Homo sapiens: one gene and its partner. The protein of the gene in region 2 interacts with the protein of the main gene of each other region in a pairwise test. Each region holds a gene or a part of one and is shown on either strand. Other genes may lie near its edges.

What was found. Proteins that work in one complex are often made in the same cells at the same time.
Region 1: the proteins of MLYCD (region 2) and UBALD1 interact in binary tests that used the Homo sapiens proteins (3 or more experiments, as listed by UniProt).

The regions. Positions count from the first base shown.
Region 1 is NC_000016.10:4,611,869-4,618,890, forward strand, and holds the start of UBALD1 (UBA-like domain-containing protein 1), read right to left. Parts: upstream 3,021-7,022; 5' UTR 2,930-3,020; coding exon 2,810-2,929; coding exon of another isoform or gene 2,625-2,809; intron 1-2,624.
Region 2 is NC_000016.10:83,895,130-83,902,144, forward strand, and holds the start of MLYCD (malonyl-CoA decarboxylase, mitochondrial), read left to right. Parts: upstream 1-3,985; 5' UTR 3,986-4,015; coding exon 4,016-4,543; intron 4,544-7,015. UniProt on the Homo sapiens protein: Catalyzes the conversion of malonyl-CoA to acetyl-CoA.

The sequences.
Region 1 (7,022 bases), about 79 Mb from region 2:
CTCGGGGCCCTGCCAAGTCCCAGGCCCAGACTTGGAGCTTCAAGCCGCCGAGGTGCCCCTACCGCCACCCCTCAGGCCCACTCCCCTAATGCCAGCTTGACTTCCTGGCCCTCCCAGGCCCAGCACACCCAGAAATCCAGCCTGGCTCCTGGGGCCTGCCCTCGATCAGGGGGTATGGGTGGGAGGCTATTTAGATTTTTTTTTTTTTTTTTTTTGAGACGGAGTCTCGCTCTGTCACCAGGCTGGAGTGCAGTGGCGTTATCTGGGCTCACTGCAACCTTTGCCTTCTAGTTCAAGTGATTCTCCTGCCTCAGCCTCCCGAGTAGCTGGGACTACAGGCACGTGCCACCACACCTGGCTAACTTTTGTATTTTTAGTAGAGATGGGGTTTCACCATGTTGGCCAGGATGGTCTTGATCTCTTGACCTCATGATCCGCCCACCTTGGCCTCCCAAAGTGCTGGGATTACAGGCATGAACCACCGTGCCCGGCAAAAAATATTTTTTAAATAAATGAATTATGTGGGGAATTTCCTGCAGGAGACACCCTATCTGGGTGTCCCTAAACAGGGGTGTGGGAGCTCAGGCATGGGGGCCGGGCTTTAAGCACCTTCCCAGACCCCAAGACCCTCTGTCAGCAGCAGCTGTGCCCCAAAGCCCAGGCTCACTGTGTAAATCCCAACCCCAGGAGCCCCAGGCCACACCAGACCCCCTCTGCAGGCCGCTGTGAGCATTCTCCATTGAGAAACATCTGCCCCACTAGACACCGGCCCCTCCCCCTGCAGCCTCCTGCCCCCATTAGCACCTGAATTGCAGCAAATGTGACCCAGAAACACCGCCTGGTGGATGCAGCCAGCGGGTGGAGCGTGGAGAGGGATGGGGTGGCCATGTGAACCCCTCACTCAGCCCCATTCCAAGGCCTGAAGTCCCGTCACCTTCCTCCAGCCTCCCTGGCGGCCCCCACTTTACAGATGGCACAACTGAGACTTGGGAGTGGAGGGCACAGGGCTCCTCCCATGGGGACCCTGGGAGCCACCAGAGGCCCCAGATGCTCCTGCCCCTCTGGGAACAGTCTTTCCCCAGACATTGCACTCCTCAAAGCTGCATTTTCAATTAACTGTGCCGCTGAGGGATGTGGCCTGGGTGCCAGCTGGGTGCCAGGTTTTGAGGGCTGGGCTGAGTCCTGCAGGCAGGGCCCGCTTCCCACCGGACACCTACCTGCCCAGCCCCAGGCAGCGAGGGAACCCTGCGTGCAGATGTGTAACTGCCATGAATGCGGTTTTGCAAGTTTTGCCACATCCAGCCCCTGACACAAACAGGGCTGATGAGGGCTGTGGAGACCAGGAGGGAAGCAGGGAGCTTCCTCCGGGTGGGGCTGCCTTGGGGCACAGGGGGCAGTAAGCTGGCCAACAGAAGCTGACTCATGCCCCCCAACCCCACCATACAGATGTGGAAACTAAGGCCAGAGGGACAGAGCAGCCTCCCACGTCCTGGGGTGAACACCACACAGGATCAGTGGCCTCCGCGACGGCTGGTAGGAGGGAAGTAGGCAAGGAGAGAGGGATGTACTCATCTGGATGGGATGGCCACTGCCTTCCCAGACTGTCCCAAGCTTGGGACATTCTGATCCCCCTGCAGTCCCCAGGAAGCGGAGCCTCAGAGTCCTCTGGCTTCTAGTCCCTCCTGCAGGCCCTGGGATGGCTCCTCATGGAGAAACCAGGTTCCCAGTCCCCGGCTGGGCACAGATGGTACCGGGATGGCTGAGGCCATGACCCTACCCCTGTGAGGGGCACAGCTCAAAGGGCTCTGGCCTCATCCCCTGATACCAACCACCATGGGGTTAATCCTGGGGTCGGTGAATTAGGGAAAGCCAGGTAGCCTCTGGGCAGCACAAGCCAGGAGCACTACTGTCCTATGGGTTAGGAGAGGCCCGGGGGAGTGGGTGCCAGACCGGGGCAGCATCACCTCCTACCCAGCTAGCCCGAAAGCTGGTGAACCGTGTGCACCCTCCCCATTGCACCGGTAAAGGGACAGATGCCCCTGCCAGCCCCAGGAGAGCACCTAGTCGCGCACACGGAGTCCCCAGGCACACCTCTGAAGGGGATACACGCTCATCCCTGTGGTGTAGTGTGGGGCTCCGACACGCCACCCCTACACTCCAGGCCGTGTACACACATCACACCGTGCCGGGCACGGGCGGCATCTGCACACCCGCCACATGTGTACGCGTTGATCACACACCAAACGCACCAGGGGGCTGCGCGTTCACACGCGCGCCAACGTGCCCGCAGGTCCGCCACCTCCCCGGTGCCCGGCCGACGCCGTGGCGCGGTGCGTGCGTAAACACAAATGCACATGGACGTGTGCGCACGCCGCCGACCGCCCACCAGGCACGCGGACCCTCGGACCACTCGCCCGGAGCGGCTCCGCCCTCCGGCCCAGCTCTGCCGAGGCCTGGGGCGTCCTCCTTCCGGCCGCCCGCCCGACTGTCCGTCTGCACCGCGGGGCCGCCCGGCCCTCGGCCGTTACCCGGACAAAAGGGGTGGGGGGGGTCCCCGTCTCGATCCCGGGGGACTCGCGGCCCCGCGGGGGCGGCGTATCCCCGACCGGTGGCCCGGTTCCCACCTCCGCCCGCCGCGAGCCCTTGGGATCCGGACGCCGGGCACCGCCGTCGGGAAAGCGGGTCGGGTCTGCGGCCCGGAGGGGGCGCACAGCCGGCACGCGTCCACGCCGTCCGCCCCCGCCCGGCGGCCACGCGGGACACACTCCGCCCGTGGCCCCGGCCCTCGCCCGGCTCCGGCGCCGCGCACCTCGAACTGCCAGTGGGCCGCCTGCAGCAGTTGCTTCGCCTGGTCGGCCGCGCAGCCCGCCGTCAGCACGAACTGGTTGATCATGACCTGGTGCTTGAGCTCGTCCATGTTCACGGACATGGCGCCGCCGCGCTGCCCGCTCCGGCCTCCCTCCTCCGCCCGCGCCTCCGCCTCACGCGTCCACCATTAGCGAGCCGGCTCCGGCTAATACAAATATTTACTGTGCGGCTCTGACTCACCGCGCCTCGCCTCGCTCCGCCGGCGCCGCGGCATGCTGGGATATGTAGTCCCCACGGTGCGCCGGGCGCCCCGGGGGAGCGGGGCCGGCACCCTAGGGGACGCGAAGCCCGGGAAGGGGCGTGTCTGAGCACCGAGCGCCCGCTGTGCGGATGTCCGGGCCGTAACCCGAGCCGGGCGCGTCCACGTCGTCCTCGTTGCTCTCGGTGGCACCCGTGCCCCTGCTCTGGCACGGATGGGGGTCCGCTGGCGGGGGCCACGTCTGTGCATGGGCGCAAATGCCTGACCACAGGATCTTGGCCAAGGCCTGGGGACCGTGTCTGAACTGTGAGCGCCTACTGTGTGTGGATGCCCGGGCCGTGACCAGGGTTGGGGGAGTCCACGTCGCCCTCGTTGCTCTGGGTGGCACCCGGCCCCTGCTCTGGCACGGATGGAGGTCCGCAGGCGGGGGCCTCAGGTTCGTGCATAGGCGTTTTTGCCAAGGCCCAGGAACGGTGTCTGAAAACTGAGTGCCTAATGTGTGCAGGCGCCTGAGCTGGGACCAGAGCCAGTCACGTCCACGTCGCCCTCGTTGCTCTCGGTGGCACCCACGCCCCTGCTCTGGCGGGAATTAGGAGCCCAGAGGCCGGGGCCACAGATCTGTGCATGGGCGCAAACGCCAGGCCACAGACGTCTTTGCCATGCCCCGGGGACTGTGACTGAACGCTAAGTGCCTACTGTGCGCAGCTGTCCAGACCGTGACCAGAGCCAGGCACGTCCATGTCGCCCTCATTGCTCTCGGTGGCACCCGTGCCCCTGCTCTGGCACGAATTGGGGTCCCAAGGTGGGGCATACAGATCTGTGCATGGGCGCAAACGCCGGGCCACAGGCGTCTTTGCTAAGACCTAGGGACCCTGAACCCCTCTGTGATTGGCATCGCTCTGTGTTAAATAGTAGGCACGCCCTTAAGAGAGGGGTCTCTAGGAATTTTGGCCCAAATCGGCTGGTCTAGGCTGAAAGGCCCGGCACACTGTAGGCGCCGACAAATACTCGTTCAGTGAATGAATGAATGAGCCACTTAAAAGCTCCGCCGCACGTCACCGCCTATAGCTAGCCTCCTAGCTCTCCTCACTCAATCTCTCATCGCCCACTCGTGGCATGGGTCCTTCCTAGCCTGGCTCTGGGCCTGCCCCACTGTAGCCCCATGACCCTCTGGACGGCGCCTGGGACAGGCTGGCGGGGCCAGCAGCCTCTGGTGCTTCGGGGTCCCCCTCCCAGCAGTTCTCCCGCTTTCCCACGCAAAATCTCGTGCTCTTTGCCGGAAATCTCGGCCCTTAGCGGGCGGGCGCCAAGGCCCGGCAGAGCCAGTTCCGGAGCGGCCCCAAACTCCCTTTCCCAGAATGCCTCGGTTTATTTGCATCGTTTGGTCCCGGTGACGTCAGCTGAGTGAGGTCGTGCCTCGACCAATGGACAGCCTCGGGGTGTTAGGACCTGGCCATATAAGGTAAACAAAGCTGGTCGCCCAATGAAGAGGCGGCGGGGGCGGGCGCTGGGCCGGGGAGGCCGGGGGCGGAGCCGGGGGCGGGGCGACCGGGCGGTGTTTACAGACCGGCACATGGCGCTTCCGGTTGACGTTGCTGACAGCTAGTGAGGCTTTAGCCCGCTTCGAGCGCCCGGGGGCGGTAAGGCGCGATCATAGCAGCTCTAGGTGACCTTGGTCCGGCTCCTTGCGCCCCCTGGCCCCAGCCTCCTTCGTTGAGACACTATTTGTTGAGTCTTTCCTCTTTTCCTGGCCCTGACCTAGCGTGGGGCGACAGAAGAGCAATAGCCGGGTGGGGGCTGTGAGAACGGCTGGGGTTGGGAGCGAATTTCGGAAACCCGGAGGACGAGTATAGCCTTGCAAGATGGAAAATGCCCTCCCGGGCTGGCGCGGTGGCCTGTAATCCCACCTACTCGGGGTCCGAGGAGGGAGGATTGCCTAGGCCCAGGACTTTGAGAACACGCCTCTACAGAGATTTACATTTTAAGAAAATTAGCTGAGTTCGGGTCGGGCGCAGTGGCTCACGCCTGTAATCCCAGCACTTTGGGAGGCCGAGGCTGGCGGATCACCTGAGGTCAGGAATTCGAGACCAGCCTGACCAAAACGGCGAAACCCGTTCTCTACTAAAAATACAAACACTAGCCGGGCGTGGTGGCAGTCGCCTGTAATCCCAGCTACTCCAGAAGCTGAGGCAGGAGAATCGCTTGAACCCAGGAGGCGGAGGTTGCAGTGAGCCGCGATCGCGCCACTGCCCTGCAGCCTGGGCCACAGAGCAAGACTCTGTCTCAAAAAAAAAAACCAAAAAACAAAGCAACAACAAAAAAACAGAGAATTAGCTGGGTTCCATGGCTCACACCTGTAAGTAATCTCAACACTTTAGGAGGCCGAGATGGGCGCGGATCACTAGAGTCCAGGAGTTTGCGACCAGTCTGGGCAACATAGTGAGACCCTCGTCTCTACAAAAAATAAAAAATAAAAAAAATTGGCCGGGCGCCGTGGCTCACGCTTGTAATCCTAGCGCTTTGGGAGGCCGAGGCGGGCAGATCCCTTGAGGTTAGGAGTTCCAGACCAGCCTGGTCAAACCGTCTCTACTAAAAATACAAAAATTAGCCGGACATGGTGGCACACGCCTGTAGTGCCAGCTACTGGGGAAGCTGAGGCAGGAGAATTGCTTGAACTCAGGAGGCGGAGGCTGCAGTGAGCTGAGATCGCGCCATTGCATTCCAGCCTAGACGACAGAGCAAGACTGTCTCAAGAAAAAAAAAAAAATTCTGGAGTCCCAGCTACAGATTGAGGTAGGAGGATTGCTTGAGCCTGGGAAGTCAGAGGCTGCAGTGAGCCGTGATTGTGCCTGGGGAACAGCGCAAGATCCTGTCTCCAAAAAATAAAAAATGCCCTAGGGAGGCCGGCACTGGCCCTGGGGGTGAGTTAGGGGATACTGAAATGTGTAAACAGATCTGATCCCTTGGACACGTTGGGATCACTGTGGCTGTGGCTGTGCTGGGATCAGATGGTGGTGGAGAGCTCCGGTCTGAACTAGGCGACGTTCTTGATGTGTCTGGTTCCAGGGGAGTCTGCCCTGCCTTCGGAATTGGATGGAATGGAGGGAATTGCCTCAAGCTGCGGCTCCTACCCGGGCCCCTCAAGCCTGACCAAGGACTCTCCCATTGGGTGGTGGGAGGAGGACAGTAGGGGAACTAGTGGACTGGACCTGAAATGTCCTGGGGTGGGAGGGTAGGGTGGTGGGGAAGGCTTGGGGCACTGAGATAGCGGAGAGGGCTGGGGAGGGAAGGGAGTCAGGGTGCAGTGGAGTTGGTCTCTGAGGGCTGGGGCTGGGAGCCTGGCCTATAGGCAAGGGGCGGACACTGAGTCTTGGCTTTTCCCAGGCAGGCACTTAGCCTCGGCAGAAGCCATCTGACCACGGGAAATACAGTTTAAAATTCTTTCCTGCTGTTTGCGGATCACTTAGGGGCCACAGTATTTTGTAAACCCTGATGGTTCCAAGAGATGTTTGCTCTTGCTAAGAGTTGCTCCTTAACCTTTGCAAAGCTCATATGCATGAATTAATATGGGCAAAGTGCTCCACAGGGTAGGCCCACAGTAAAAACCAGCTCTGAATATGATTCCCGCTATAATAATTACCACTAGGACGACAACACAGTGTGGTAGAAGGTGGGCAGGTTCGGGAGCTAGACAGACCTGGGTGTCAGGCTTGACTCCGCTGCTTAATGACTTAATGCTTAATGTTGAGCGAGTTACCAGAGCTCTGGGCTTCACTTTCTCACTGGCGGGGCTGAGTTCTGGCCTCACTGCTGTGGAAGATTAATGCCTGTAAAATGCAGAGTGCAGGGCCTGGTGCTATTTGCACGGTTCTAGTGCTCTCACCTGTTTGCCTCCATCTGGACCACTCTGGGAAGCCCTAGCCCTATTTTACAGATAAAACTGAGGCTGGAATCC
Region 2 (7,015 bases):
TTCTTTCTACTTTTTGCTATTTTAAGTTACATATTAGGAAAATGTGTGCACACGTTTTTGTGTGAATGTATGTTCACAATTCTCTTGGGTACCTAGGAGTGGAATTACTGGGCTCTATGGCAATTCTCTTTGACTTTTTGAGGCACTGCCAAACTGATTTCCACAGTGGCTGTATCATTTAGCATTCTCATCAGCGGAGTATGAGGGTTCTAATTTCTGTACATTCTCACCAGTTATTCTGTTGTTATTATTATTGCCATCCTAGTGGATGTGAAGTGGTAACTCGTGGCTTTGATTACATTTCCCTAACGACTAATGACGTTGAGCATCTTTTTATGCACTTACTGGCCATATATATTTACACATACACATACATACATATACACACACACACATATATATATACATACACATATATATATATACACACACATATATATATTTTTTGGAGAGATGTCTATTCTAATCTTCTGTCCATTTTTAATTAGGTTGTTTGTCTTTTTATTGTTTAGTGGTAGGAATTCTTTTTTTTTTTTTTTTTTTAAACAGAGTCTCGCTCTGTTGCCCAGGCTGGAGTGCAGTGGCGCGATCTGGCTCACTGCAAGCTCACCCTCCCGGGTTCACGCAATTCTCCTTCCTCAGCCTCCTGAGTAGCTGGGACTACAGGCGCCGGCCACCACCCCCGGCTAATTTTTTGTATTTTTAGTGGAGACGGGGTTTCACCGTGTTAGCCAGGATGGTCGCGATCTCCTGACTTTGTGATCCGCCTGCCTTGGCCTCCCAAAGTGCTGGGATTACAGGCGTGAGCCACCATGCCCGGCCACAATTCTTTATATAATCCACATAAAGACCCTTATCAGATATATGATTTTCAAATATTTCTCCCACTCTGTGGCTCATCTTTTTACTTTATTGATGGTGTCCTTCAATATATAAAAGTTTCTCATTTTGATGAGGTCCAAGTTATCTATTATTCTTTTGTTGTTTGCACTTGTGACGTCATATTTAAGAAATAATTGCTATTCCAAAGTCCTGAAGATTTACACCTATTTTCCCTTCTAAGGATTTTATAGTCTTAGCTCTTACATTTAGGTCTTGGATCCATTTTGGGTTAATTCTTCTATTGGCTGTGAGGTAGGTAGGGGTCCATGTTTGTTGTTTTGCTTGTAGATGTCTAGTTGTCCCCGTCCCATTTGTTGAAAAGACTCACTTTTACCCACTGAATGGTCTTAGAACCCTTGTCAAAAATGAATTGACCAGGCTGGTCACGGTGGCTCACGCCTGTAATCCCAGCACTTTGGGAGGCCAAGGTGGGCGGATCACGAGGTCAGGAGTTCGAGACCAGCCTCGCCAACTTAGTGAAACCCTGTCTCTACTAAAAATACAAAAATTAGCTGGGTGTGGTGGCACACACCTGTAGTCCCAGCTACTCAGGAGGCTGAGGCAGGAGAATTACTTGAACCTGGGAGGCAGAGGTTGCAGTGAGCCGAGACCATGCCACTGCACTCCAGCCTGAGTGACAGAGTGAGACTCTGTCTCAAAAAAAAAAAAAAAAATCAATTGACCATAGATGGGTTTATTTCTGAATGTTCAATTTTATTCTATTGATTTTTGTGTTTTATCTTTCTGCCAATACCACATTATTTTGATTACTGTGGCTTTGTAGTAAGTTTGTTCTTTTTAAAGATTGTTTTGGCCACTCAGGGCCCCTAGCATTTCTATATAAATATTAGAATATGTTTTTCTATTTCTGCAAAAAAAAAAAGGGCAGTGAAATTTTAATAGGGATTGTATTAGATCTGTAGGTTAATTTTGGGAGTATTGCCATTGTATTAGTCTATTCTCACGCTGCTATAAAGAAATACACGAGACTGGGTAATTCATAAAGAAAAGAGGTTTAATCGGATTATGGTTCCACAAGCTGTACAGAAGACGTAGTGGCTTCTGCTTCTGGAGAGGCCTCAGGAGGCTTCCATTCATGGCGGAAGGCAAAGGGGGAGTGAGGAGCTTCACATAGCCAGAGCAGGAGAGAGGGGGTGGTGATGCACACTTCTAAACAACCGGATCTCCTGAGAACTCACTGTAGGGTACCAAGCGGGGATGGTGCTAACCCATTTATGAGAACTCTGCCCCTATGATCCAATCATTTCTTACCAGGCGCCACCTCCAACACTGAGGATTACAACTAGACATGAGATTTGGTTGGACACAGATCCAAACCATATGAGCTATATTAACAATATTACATCTTCCAATCCATGAACCATGCATGGACCATTCCATTTGTTTAGGTCTTCTTTAATTTCCTTCAATACTGTTCTGTGGTTTTCCATCTACCAGTCTCACACTTCCTTGGTTAAACATGTTTCTTTTATCCCTTCAGATGTTGTTGTAAATAGAATTGTTTCTTTAATTTCATTTTTGGATTGGGGCAGTCTTTTGAAATAAGGACATGAGTGGGAAAAAGCAGAGGATGGCTGTTGACGCCTAGAGAAAAAAGTATAAACACAGAGAAAAAAAAAACAGAAGCCAGAAATTACATAAAAAGGAAGGCACCGGGAAAGATGAGAAAGAACAGGGTTGTGGGAGTACTACACTTAGCAAATGCTTAAGCAAAGTCAAGCTTTCAAGACAAGATTCCTAAAGCAAGGCAGGAGTATCCTAGGACAGACAAAAGCTCACTCGACAAGGCAAAGAGACAAACACCAGAGTTTGGACCCCACCAACTCCCTTAGCCAGCTGGCAATATGGTTTCACCACTTCTTAGAAAAGAGGAATGGAGAGGTGTCCTCAAAAGCCACCACTAGGCTTTCAGAATGTTTTGTGTGTCTGTGTCTTGGCAGAATGAGCCAAACGTACTTTCTTCGTGCCCCATAAGATGAGACACACCCAGCAAAGGCTGTCCTCATACAGAACTACCTCCAGGTGTCTTTTATACTGCAAGACCTGCACCAAAGGGTTCTACCTATAGAAATCCTAGCACCTAGACATAGTCAACCAAGTACATGGCTCCCTCACCCTCCAACCAAAGATGCCATATTTCCATCAGAGTGGAACAAAATCCCACTGTGTTCCTAATGCCTCCTGCAATTTTGCATGTGGGAGACATGGCTGGTATGTGACATTCTCTTCTACAGATTGTAATGGATTGGGGAAGGAGGGGGAACTAGAGTTCAGGCCTATCTTTCTAGAGGACAAAATAAATATGCCTTGATAACTGCAATTATCTGAAAACTATTTCAAAGAAAACTCTTTGTCTCATTCTGGCATTTGCTCAAGGGTATGGCTTTCCATCAGTCTCTCTGTCTCCATGTCTCTTTTACATACATATGTATGTGTATATGCGTGCGTATGTGTACATACATCCATACATATAGACATATTCTCTCTCTCTCCACACACACTCACACACCCCTCCAACCTCTGTGGCTCTGAGCGTCATGTGTGTAAGACACTGACGCGAATGGTGAGTGCCTAGGCAGGGGTCAAACAAAGGCTACCTACCATGCCAGAGGATTGCCACAAACACCTCTTAAGCAAGCATATTCCTTGGCTCCTCCCAGACACACTGAATCTGAATCTCTAGGATTCTGATTTCGGAGCCCAGGAATCCTCCGGTGCAGGAGTTCCCAGGTGACTCTGATGCACCGGGAGGCTGGAGGCGCTCGGATCTAGAGAGGAGGCGGCACTTGTGCAGTGCAGTCGGGAAAGAGAGGAGGGGCTGGGCCGGTGCCTTTAGGCGGTCAGGTGTTAGGACCGGAGTACAAGCCGCCAGCCGCGCGGGAGCAGGCCCCGAGGCAGCCCAGCCGCGGGGCAGTAACCTTTAGCCACACTTGGCCTCCGGCCGCCGCCAGAGCCGCTCCGCCCCCGCCGCCTCGCCCCCACCGCCCCGCCCTCCTATTGGCCGCGTCCCCAGCCGGGCTCGCGGCCTCGGCCAATGGGGCCGGCGCGCGCCGGAAGCCGGAAGCGCGGCAGCGGCGGCGGCGCTCCCCCTCGGCAGCTGTTGTGGGGCACCATGCGAGGCTTCGGGCCAGGCTTGACGGCCAGGCGTCTCCTCCCGCTGCGGTTGCCCCCGCGGCCGCCCGGGCCCCGGCTGGCGAGCGGGCAGGCGGCCGGCGCCCTGGAGCGGGCCATGGACGAGCTGCTGCGCCGCGCGGTGCCGCCGACGCCGGCCTACGAGCTGCGCGAGAAGACACCGGCGCCCGCCGAGGGTCAGTGCGCGGACTTCGTGAGCTTCTACGGTGGGCTGGCCGAGACGGCCCAGCGGGCCGAACTGCTGGGCCGCCTGGCGCGGGGCTTCGGCGTGGACCACGGCCAGGTGGCGGAGCAGAGCGCCGGCGTGCTCCATCTGCGCCAGCAGCAGCGGGAGGCGGCGGTGCTGCTGCAGGCCGAGGACCGGCTGCGCTACGCGCTGGTGCCGCGCTATCGCGGCCTCTTCCACCACATCAGCAAGCTGGACGGCGGCGTGCGCTTCCTGGTGCAGCTGCGGGCCGACCTGCTGGAGGCGCAGGCCCTCAAGCTGGTGGAGGGGCCGGACGTCCGGGTAAGGGGCCGCCGTCGATCCCCCGGCAGCGCGGACTGGCCGCCCTCCTCGAGTAGTCCTCACTTGCCCCCTCCAAGTCCCACACACCCCGCCTTCCCTGCCCGATAGCACGCTCACTTCGCCCGCAGTTACCGCCTGCCAACTGTGTCCCCTTCCCACGCTGTCTGAGTCCTGGCCTCGTCAGAGCACACCCCCGCCTTCCTCCAGTCTGTCCTTGAAGTCCTCACTTGTATAGTGTTTACTAAATACTCAGCACTTGGTGGTCTTTAAGGTAGCTGTCACCTCTCGTACCTGATTAGTGTGTGCTCTACAGTCTTTTGAAATTATTGTAGCTGAGAAGTGTTTCATCTATATGGTATACCTGAACTAGAGCATCAGGCAGCCTTCTGAGACCCTGGATGGTGTTTCAGAAGTTCACTGGGCACCCGCTATGTGTGAGACATTGTCCTGAGAAGTCCTGTGAAATGCACAAAGGTAAATAGGACTCAAGGTCACCACCACCACCCAGGAGTCTCCATGGCTTCTGGCCTTGTCTGTGCTCCATGACTTTTGGGAGGGCATTTAACTCCCTGCGTTCAGTACTTAATGTGATGATTCTGAGTTGACTTGAGGTAATCAGGCATTAGCACAGTTCATTCATGTTAAATGCAGACACATACTTTGAGATTTAAATGATTATGACCCGAAAGAAGGCCTAGAGCAACATATACTCTTCTTTTATACTGTTAGTATTAAATACGGCGAAAAACTAACCTGCCCTTTTTTTATTTTTATTTTTGTTGCCCAGACTGGAGTACAGTGGTGTTATCACGGCTCACTGCAGCCTCGACTTCCCCAGGCTCAAGCAATCTTCCCACCTCAGCCTCCTGAGTAGCTGGGACTACAGGTGCAGGCCACCATGCCCGGCTAATTTTTTTTTTTTTTTTTTTTTTTTGTAGAGAGGGCGTTTCACCATGTGGCCCAGGCTTAACCTGCCCTTTTAATGAACGAAAAATGACGTAAATGTTTCAGGAAGTTTTGGACATTCAGAAGTTTGTTATGTGCAGTTGGTGTTAAAAAAAAATTGAACACTTGAATGATTATGACTTGACCCATTTAAGAACTCTAATACTGGTTTAATAGTTTACATTCCTTCAGTCTTACGTGGGTGATAACACGTATCCCTTTTACAGTAAAGGAGAACATGCTGAGGTTGTGTTACTTGTCCTGAAATTCAGAGCGAAAAGCTCTTGCTGATCACCCACCCTAATCCAGGGTTATTTGCACTACGCTTTATATCACTGTCTTACCGTTAATCAGATGTTTATTAGAAACTTTCTTTTTTGGCTACTTAGATGCATAAAATTGGGCATAATTAAGTATGGGATTAATGTCAAGAGTGACAACAGTGGCCATGATTTGATTCCCCGTGATAGCTGGTTAATTTACAGCGCTAAGTGTTACTGAGGGCCAGGCATCTTTGGCCGTAAGATTCTCAGACAGAAAGCCCACAGTTGCTAATTGCATGACACAGAATCAGTCATGAATTCTTACTGTGTTGAATTATCATGTTCTGGGCTCAAGCCTAGTCTGAATAGCTGAGTTTTTCTGATCCACACTTGGACATAGTACTTGCAGTATATCATCCCCCCATGTAAATGATCAGCTCCTCGAAAACTGGGAAACTTGTCTTTAAATTTCTTGCATAGCAGAATGATGAATGAATCATTGCAATAGATTCCTGGGTGTCCTGGCATAAGACACACTTGACACACTAATCATTCAGCATTTGTGTGGAGGTGAGTCTGCCCCACACTCAGTCATAGATTTTTGAGCCTGAGAGAAAGCCATGAAGGACTTGAAAGGTTTCTGCCCAGCTGAGAGGGTCCTCATATCAGACATTTGGACAGCTTTGTCCCTCATTGATTTCTCACATCCGGTCCAATTCTGAATTCTCTGGTTCTGTGAGATGCTGTGGAATACATCCTTTTGTTCTTCCCCACTCAAGAAAACTCTTGGTTATCGCGTCATTGGGAAGGAACACGTTGCATGGCAACTGAAGACACTCACATCCAGACTTGACTGTTGAGAGAAAGGAGCTGGCCCCTGGGAAATACAGAGGCTGCTGAGTCCTTAGACATTCACAAGTTTCCTTGCTTTTTGACCAAGGCTATTTACAGAAGGGAAAAAAACATTGCATACTGTAATGCTAGGCCAAAAGTCCTGTGGACCAGAGGTGTTTATCAAACAGAATGAATAACGACAGTCTGATCTTTGCCTCTGCATATGGTTTGGACATAATGGCTTCAGGAGCCTTTCTGTGATTGCTTTATTGTGCCCCTTCCATTTCTTTACCTAGAAACCCCAGCCTTATATTCAGTGCATGTAACTGTTAGTAGCTGAACCTATTAATTCCCTTCCCCTTCCCTTGTTCTACGTAGTTGTTTTCTCATATATACACATATATATGTATGTGTATATGTGTGTGTGTGT